Linked DNA regions of Homo sapiens. The protein of the gene in region 1 interacts with the protein of each later gene in a pairwise test. Each region holds a gene or a part of one and is shown on either strand. Other genes may lie near its edges.

The links. Proteins that work in one complex are often made in the same cells at the same time.
Region 2: the proteins of PKN2 (region 1) and FAM193B interact in a two-hybrid assay, tested with the Homo sapiens proteins (one large-scale study listed by BioGRID and IntAct).

Annotation. Positions count from the first base shown.
Region 1 is NC_000001.11:88,687,257-88,690,785, forward strand, and holds part of PKN2 (serine/threonine-protein kinase N2), read left to right. Parts: intron 1-3,529. UniProt on the Homo sapiens protein: PKC-related serine/threonine-protein kinase and Rho/Rac effector protein that participates in specific signal transduction responses in the cell.
Region 2 is NC_000005.10:177,534,064-177,537,592, reverse strand, and holds part of FAM193B (protein FAM193B), read left to right. Parts: intron 1-847; coding exon 848-1,235; intron 1,236-3,529.

The sequences.
Region 1 (3,529 bases):
ATTCAACAAGGAAGCATTAATAAACTATGTAAACTTTGGTGGCTAGAGGTTTCAAGGTATAAGGAAGAATATTTACTGTAGTAAAAATAAAAATCGGCTGTTTAAAATGGCCAATTTCTAATTTTTATCTCATAACTAATTTGTTGTGTTGTATTCTCTTTTTTTATTTGAAGTATAGCAGAAAACAGACATTTTTGCAATGCCAAAGAAACTAAAGTCTATTTCCAAGAAACCTGGATTAATGAAAACTGTAAAGAATCTCAGAATGAAAGTGTTGGCTACAATGGTAATTTTGTAGAATGCAGACCAAATATTGAGCAGTGTACTAACAAAGCTACCTTGTTGATTATTGGAGATTCATTTTCTTCATCAAAATGCCCAATAAAGTGTTGGTCTGGGAATCTTAAATTCCATTCTCAGCAGATTTTATTTAGATAGAGGTAACTTGCTCAAGTGGAAAGTTGAGATAGTTACCCTTAAATTACAGGGGTTAATTTCACCAAACAGTTATGTAGTATCTACCAAAGCTATATTGGAGGATATAAAGATGACAAGATAGGTTTTTGCTTTCCAGAAGAGAGTATAGATAATTGTACTAGAAGATAATTATAAGAGACTACAAATAACATTTTAAAAATTATTTGCTATATATCAGACATTGTACTTAGTGTCCTATACACCTTATTTGATCTTCACAACAATCCAATAAGGTAGGTGTTATTTCCATGTTGTGGATCAGGAAACAAGTTCAAGAATGTTAAGGAAATTGCTCATGGTTACATTGTGTGTCTGAGTTTGAACCCAGGTCTGTATGTTTCCCACTACACTATTCTTTTTTTTTTTTCTGGAGACGGAGTCTCGCACTGTCACCCAGGCTAGAGTGCAGTGGTGTGATCTCTGCTCACTGCAATCTCCACCTCCCAGGTTCAAGCGATTCTCCTGCCTCAGCCTCCCAAGTAGCTGGGATTACAGGCACCTGCCACCACACCCGGCTAATTTTTTGTATTTTTAGTAGAGACGGGGTTTCATTATGTTGGCCAGGCTGGTCTTGAACTCCTGACCTCGTGATTCGCTTGCCTCGGCCTCCCAAAGTGCTGGGATTACAGGTGTGAGCCACCATGCCCGGCGCCACTACACCATTATTTAAATTGCCACAGTTCTGGGGAACTATAAATGTTTTGCATCTAATGTTATAGTTGTATGAACTTTCTACAAATTGGCCAAAAACGTAATTAACCAACATTAACTTTACACTACTTGTTAGCTCCGTCTGTAACAAGGAAAAATGATTTCTACATTCCACTTGGTAGTCTATAATTTAGCAGTGTTTTATTATTGTAGATACAGTCTAATATTTCACAAAGAATAATAGTACAAATAATCTTTTTACAGGGTTTCTTCATTAAGAATTACTGTTTCTAATGAAAGGTGTCACATGCTTGCCCAAAACTTCCCAAAAGATTTAACATTACTCTGTAGACTGTGCTTTGCTTTAAAATTTTATACTCACATGTAACCTAGCTCTGTGTTTGACACTTAGTAGGTGCGCAATACATTGATGAGAATGCTCCATTTGTCACGTAGGAGGAGGGATGTCTAGGTTATTTTAAGAGAAGTTCATTATAATCTTTGACATATGAAATTACGTAGTTTTCTTTAATTTACATTTCTAATCCCTTCTCCCAAAAATATTCTCTTTAAAAGTACAAAAGGGATTTCTATAGTAGTTACATCATTCTTCCATATAGCACACTGGTAGTTTACTCATTTAATGGAAAATGAGAAGACGGCATCTAATTTTGCAGTGACACTGGAAAGTGGAAGGTCTGAGTTGGGAGGATTAAAATTTTAGGGTGGTTTGGGGGTTGGTGGTATGAGAAGGTAAACAGGGTAGTTAAGACAGACTTTACATTGTTTTCAAATTAGAAATGTAATGCACATGTATTACAGAAAATCCAGAAAATGTGGAAAAGCACAAAAGAAAATAAAAGTTGCTCATAGTTCTGTCACTTAGAGACTGACAGACTTTTTCCACCTAAAAGTCCCATGGCTGTAGAGTCCATTTTTTCTTTTTTTTCTTTATCTCATTTTACTTACTAGAATTTTGAAGAAAAATGAAGCTCAGAGAATTTTAAGATAGAAATCACAGTAGGTTAAAAACTTTTTTCTTGCCACTGGTTCTAGATGAGTGGATCTAATTAGCTTTTATTGCCTTTTTTAATCTCAAAATATTTCAATTATGAGTCACGGCTTTATTAAGAAGAAAAGTGCAGGCTGGGCATAGTGGCTCACACCTGTAATTCCAGTGCTTTGGGAGGCTGAGACAGGCGGATCACCTGAGGTCAGGAGTTCGAGACTAGCCTGGCCAACTTGGTGAAACCCTGTCTCTACTAAAAATACAAAAATTAGCCAGGTGTGGTGATGTGTGCCTGTAATCCCAACTACTTGGGAGGCTGAGGCACAAGAATTGCTTGAACTCAGGAGGCGGAGGTTGCAGTGAGCTGAGATCACGCAACTGCACTCCAGCCTTGGTGACAGAGTGAGAACCTGTCTCAAAGAAAAGTGCAGTAGTATGGATTTAGTAATAGACAGTAATGAAGTATAGCAACAATTTCTTTGAATAATATAGCAATACAGTGTGTTTTTCCGGCTTAGGTTTGATTGTTGCTGCTCTTATAGACTACCACAATGTTTGTAATTTGCAGCGCATACTTTGCTGAATTAAACATACTAAATAACTTTCCAAATATTTCTTGACTACCAAGATAAAAGTCTGTGTTAAAACTAGTGTTACTAAATGATGGCTCTAAAATGGATTTTTTTGTCATCTCTCATTAGTGTAATAGAGATTAGGTCTAGTATCATGCAATTCCTACCATTCACATAGTGTTGAAATAGGGACAAGTAGGGGCACCTTTTAGACATCATCTCTTTATCCCAGAGCTTAGCATCTGATTCCTTGGGCTCTCTTATTTCTGCTTTTTGAATTTGGCAATGGTAAATTTTCATGCCATTCATCAGAAGCATGTTTACTTTTAAACAAATAAAGTAGTAGTTTGTAAACATCACCTAAAATAATGTTACTTTCATACCATAAATGGTATTTGAATAAAACAGTTAATTCTACATTATTCCCTCATAAAATATACTGTGCTGATAATTGTCAAATGTCTATATTATTTCAAAAGCCAATTTTACTCTACAGTATATGACATTTAATATGATCAACTTTTGATATACAGCAGAGTTCAAACTTGACAGCAAAGTTGAAAACTAGTTAAAAGCTTTAAAAAGATTTAAAATTTAGAGTGGGAAAAATATACTAATGAAAAAGTAATTCCTTAATGAAACAGAAATAGAGAATCTTTATCTTGATGCATGTCTAGCTTGTCTTAATTTTATCTGATGAAATCTTGTTTGAAACTAGCTCTATTATCATACTTGGTTTTTTTTTGCAATCACAAAAATGAAATTTGTGTAACATTATATACATAAATATTGCCTGTAAAAAATGAAGATCAAGAAAGCA
Region 2 (3,529 bases), on another chromosome or scaffold:
CTGTCTGAGTAGAAAGTGGAGTCATAGGACTTAGATCACCTGACCCCTGCAGCACCACAGAGGACCTGGGCAACCTTGTCTTCCTAGGCCTTGATTTCCCCACCTAAGGGATGGGTATAAAAGCACTGAATTTAAATGCCCAAGAGATTGGCAGTGTAAGCCGTAATAGTTATTAGCTAATTTAGCAGCTGTGTAAGTCTTCTTTGACCCTGAAATAACTCTCAGAGACCCAGAGACAAAACTCTTGGGTTATTGGTTTATTATGTAAATATGATTTACTGTCATACTTCTAAATGAAGGAGCTGAGTTCTTCAAAGTGGGTCTGCTCCCAGAATTATGAGTGTTGAGCAGTATATAATTCCATTAATTTTGGTACATAAGCTAGAGAGTCATCAGAACCTTTTTCCCACTTGTCTGAAATCTGGGGCCCTCAGGGGTCTGGCATGCCCTGCTGCTGTGGTACACGTGGCACAGAGGCAGAGCCTGGGCCTGCTGCTCCACTGGCTTCTGCAGATCATCCTCCAGGCCTGAGGAGCACCTGTGTACAAGCAGATCCTAGAGAGACCCTCAGAGACAGAATGCATATCTTCTGCTCATGCTGCAGAAAAGGCATGGGGCCTTGTGTGGAATCAGCATTCCTAGTACCTTCTTGCTTGGGCCTGGGCTCCTTGAGCCTGCTCAGCTGTGTTGCTGCCCACACAGAATCTTCTGCAGCTCCAGGGTCCCCTGTGCTGAGAGGCTGTGCCCTCTTGTCACAGAAGCAGGATGCTGTGGCAGTGAGCCTGTGGGCTTTCCTTCCCAGGTCTGGGCTCCCATTCTGACCCCTTTCTCCTCCCTCTGCCCACAGGTGAGGCTTTCCCCGTCTCGGAGCACCACCAGCACTCAGACCTCACTGCTCCCCCTAACAGCCCCACCGGCCACCACCCGCAGCCAGCATCTCTAATCCCGTCTCACCCCAGCTCCTTTGGCTCCCCACCCCACCCACACCTGCTGCCCACCACCCCGGCAGCACCTTTCCCTGCCCAGGCTTCAGAGTGCCCTGTTGCTGCTGCCACTGCCCCCCACACTCCAGGGCCATGTCAGAGCTCCCATCTACCCTCCACCAGCATGCCGCTCCTGAAGATGCCCCCACCATTCTCGGGGTGCAGCCACCCCTGCAGCGGGCACTGTGGTGGGCACTGCAGTGGGCCTCTCCTCCCACCCCCGAGCTCTCAGCCACTCCCTAGCACTCACAGGTAAGTGTGCTGCATGAAGGGCAAACTCGCTACCCACTTGAACTTAGAATTTTGGAAAATTTGGGGTTAACTTTGAGGTGGCAATTAAAAAGTAGACTATGTCTTTCCTTTCATTATTTTTCAATTGTAAAGAAGTATGTGTTTTGGCCTGGCACAGTGGCTCACACCTATACTCCTAGCGCTTTGGGAGTCCTAGGCAGGAAGATCACTTGAGCCTAGGAGTTTGAGACCAGCCTGGGCAACATGGCAAGACCCCCCTCTCTACAAAAAATTTTGAAAATTAGCCAGGCATGGTGGCATGCAACTGTAGTCCTAGCTACTCAGGAGGCTGAGGCAGGAGGATTGCCTGAACCCAGGAGTTTAGGGTTGCTGTGAGCATTGATCATGCCACTGCACTCCAGCCTGGGTGACAGAGCTTTAAAAAAAAAAAAAAAAATAGTATGTGGGGTTTTTTTGTTTTGTGTTTTGTTTTGTTTTAACTTGGAACAATTCAGAAATGTATAAGGAAAAAAATGTCTTCACAACCTAAACTTCTACCACTGTGGTATATTTTCACCATGTTTCTGTATATAAATAACATACTTAGATATTTGATATACCTTTCGTGTAGTAGTAATTTTTTAACATTATGTCATGATCATTTCCCCAGTTAAAATTCTTCAAGAAACTTTTCAATAGTCATATAATGTCTTACTGTATAGCTCAAGCATACTTTATCATTCCCCTATTCCTGGATATCTAGGCATTTCCAGTTGTTTAACCATAATGAATGAGACTGTAATAAGCATCCCTGCACCTAAATCTGTTTGAATGAGAAATCATGTCCTTCAGGGAGATTCCTAGAAGTAACTCTTAAGTACTAAGAAAGGTTATACTAACATATATTTGAAAGAGAATTCTTTGGAGAAGATAGAGGTATATTTTTATGTTAGAAATCAGATCTGTGTTTATCATGCATTTCTATCTTCCTATTGGAAAGTCTCCTGTGTCTGGCACATGCCGGGTTGACAGTGTCTGCAGTCTGCCACCCGCCGGTTTTCACTTAGCGTTGCCTCCTCAGCATATTTGTGTTCTCTTGTGGTGTTCTTAGCCTCTAGCTTCAAAGGCTGGAGAACATCGACCGCAATTCATGTTACTGTTCTCTAGTTGCTGAGCATTTGGGTTATTCGGACATTTTAACATTACCAACAGTGTCTCTAAAGATGTCTTTTCTTAAAGCCTTTTTCCTCTTTTGGATTTTTCTTGTTGGAATCAAGTTCTCAGAATGAAAAAAGTTACTAGTTAAAGGCTGTTTAGGTGTTTTTTGTTCTCTTTGAGGGTTCTTAATACACATTGAAAAACTGCTATCCAAAGGGGTCTCCAAACTGATGTAACCACCAATGAGTGCTGGTTTCCCATATTCACAAGCACACTATTTTAATTTTTCTAAAATCAATTTTGTGGCCTGGTGCCCAGCTCATGCCTATAATCCCAGCCCTTTGGGAGGCCGAGGCAGAAAGATTGCTTGAGCCCAGGAGTTGGAGACTAGCAAGGGCAACATAATGAGACTCTGTCTCTACAAAAAATTTAAAAACTAGTGGGGCATAATGTGCATGCCTCTAGTTCCAGCTACTTAGGTTGCGGGGGCTGAAGTGGGACAGGATCGCTTGAGCCTGGGAGATACAGGCTGCAGTGAGCTGACATCGTGCCACTGAACTCTAGCCTAGGCAACAAAGTGAGAGCCAGTCTCAAAATAGAAAATAAAATCAATTTTGCTGGCCAGGCGCGGTGGCTCATTCCTGTAATCCCAGCACTTTGGGAGGCTGAGGTGAGCAGATCACGAGGTCAAGAATTCCAGACCAGCCTGGCCAGCATGGTGAAACCTCATCTCTATTAAAAATACAAAAAAAAAAAATTAGCTGGGCATGGTGGCGTGTGTCTGTAGTCCCAGCTACTCAGGAGGCTGAGGCAGGAGAATCGCATGAACCTGGGAGGCGGAGGTTGCAGTGAGCCGAGGTCGCAACACTGCACTCCATCCAGCTTGGGCAACAGAGCGAGACTCCGTCTCCAAAAAAAAAAAAAAAAAATCAGTTTTGCTAATGCAATAGATAATGAATGGTTGGTTTAGAACAAACTTCTGTAAGCACCACTGATAATGATTCCTGCCACCATCTTTTTTAATCCACGTCACATGCTTAGCATCCTTTCTAGCAGCAGAGAGGGCTGCTTTGGACTGCCCTGGAAGCTGGGCCTCCACACAGCTCCTTGAGCTCCGTCCTTGCTCTCAGTTCCCCTGCCACCTCAGCCTCAGCCCA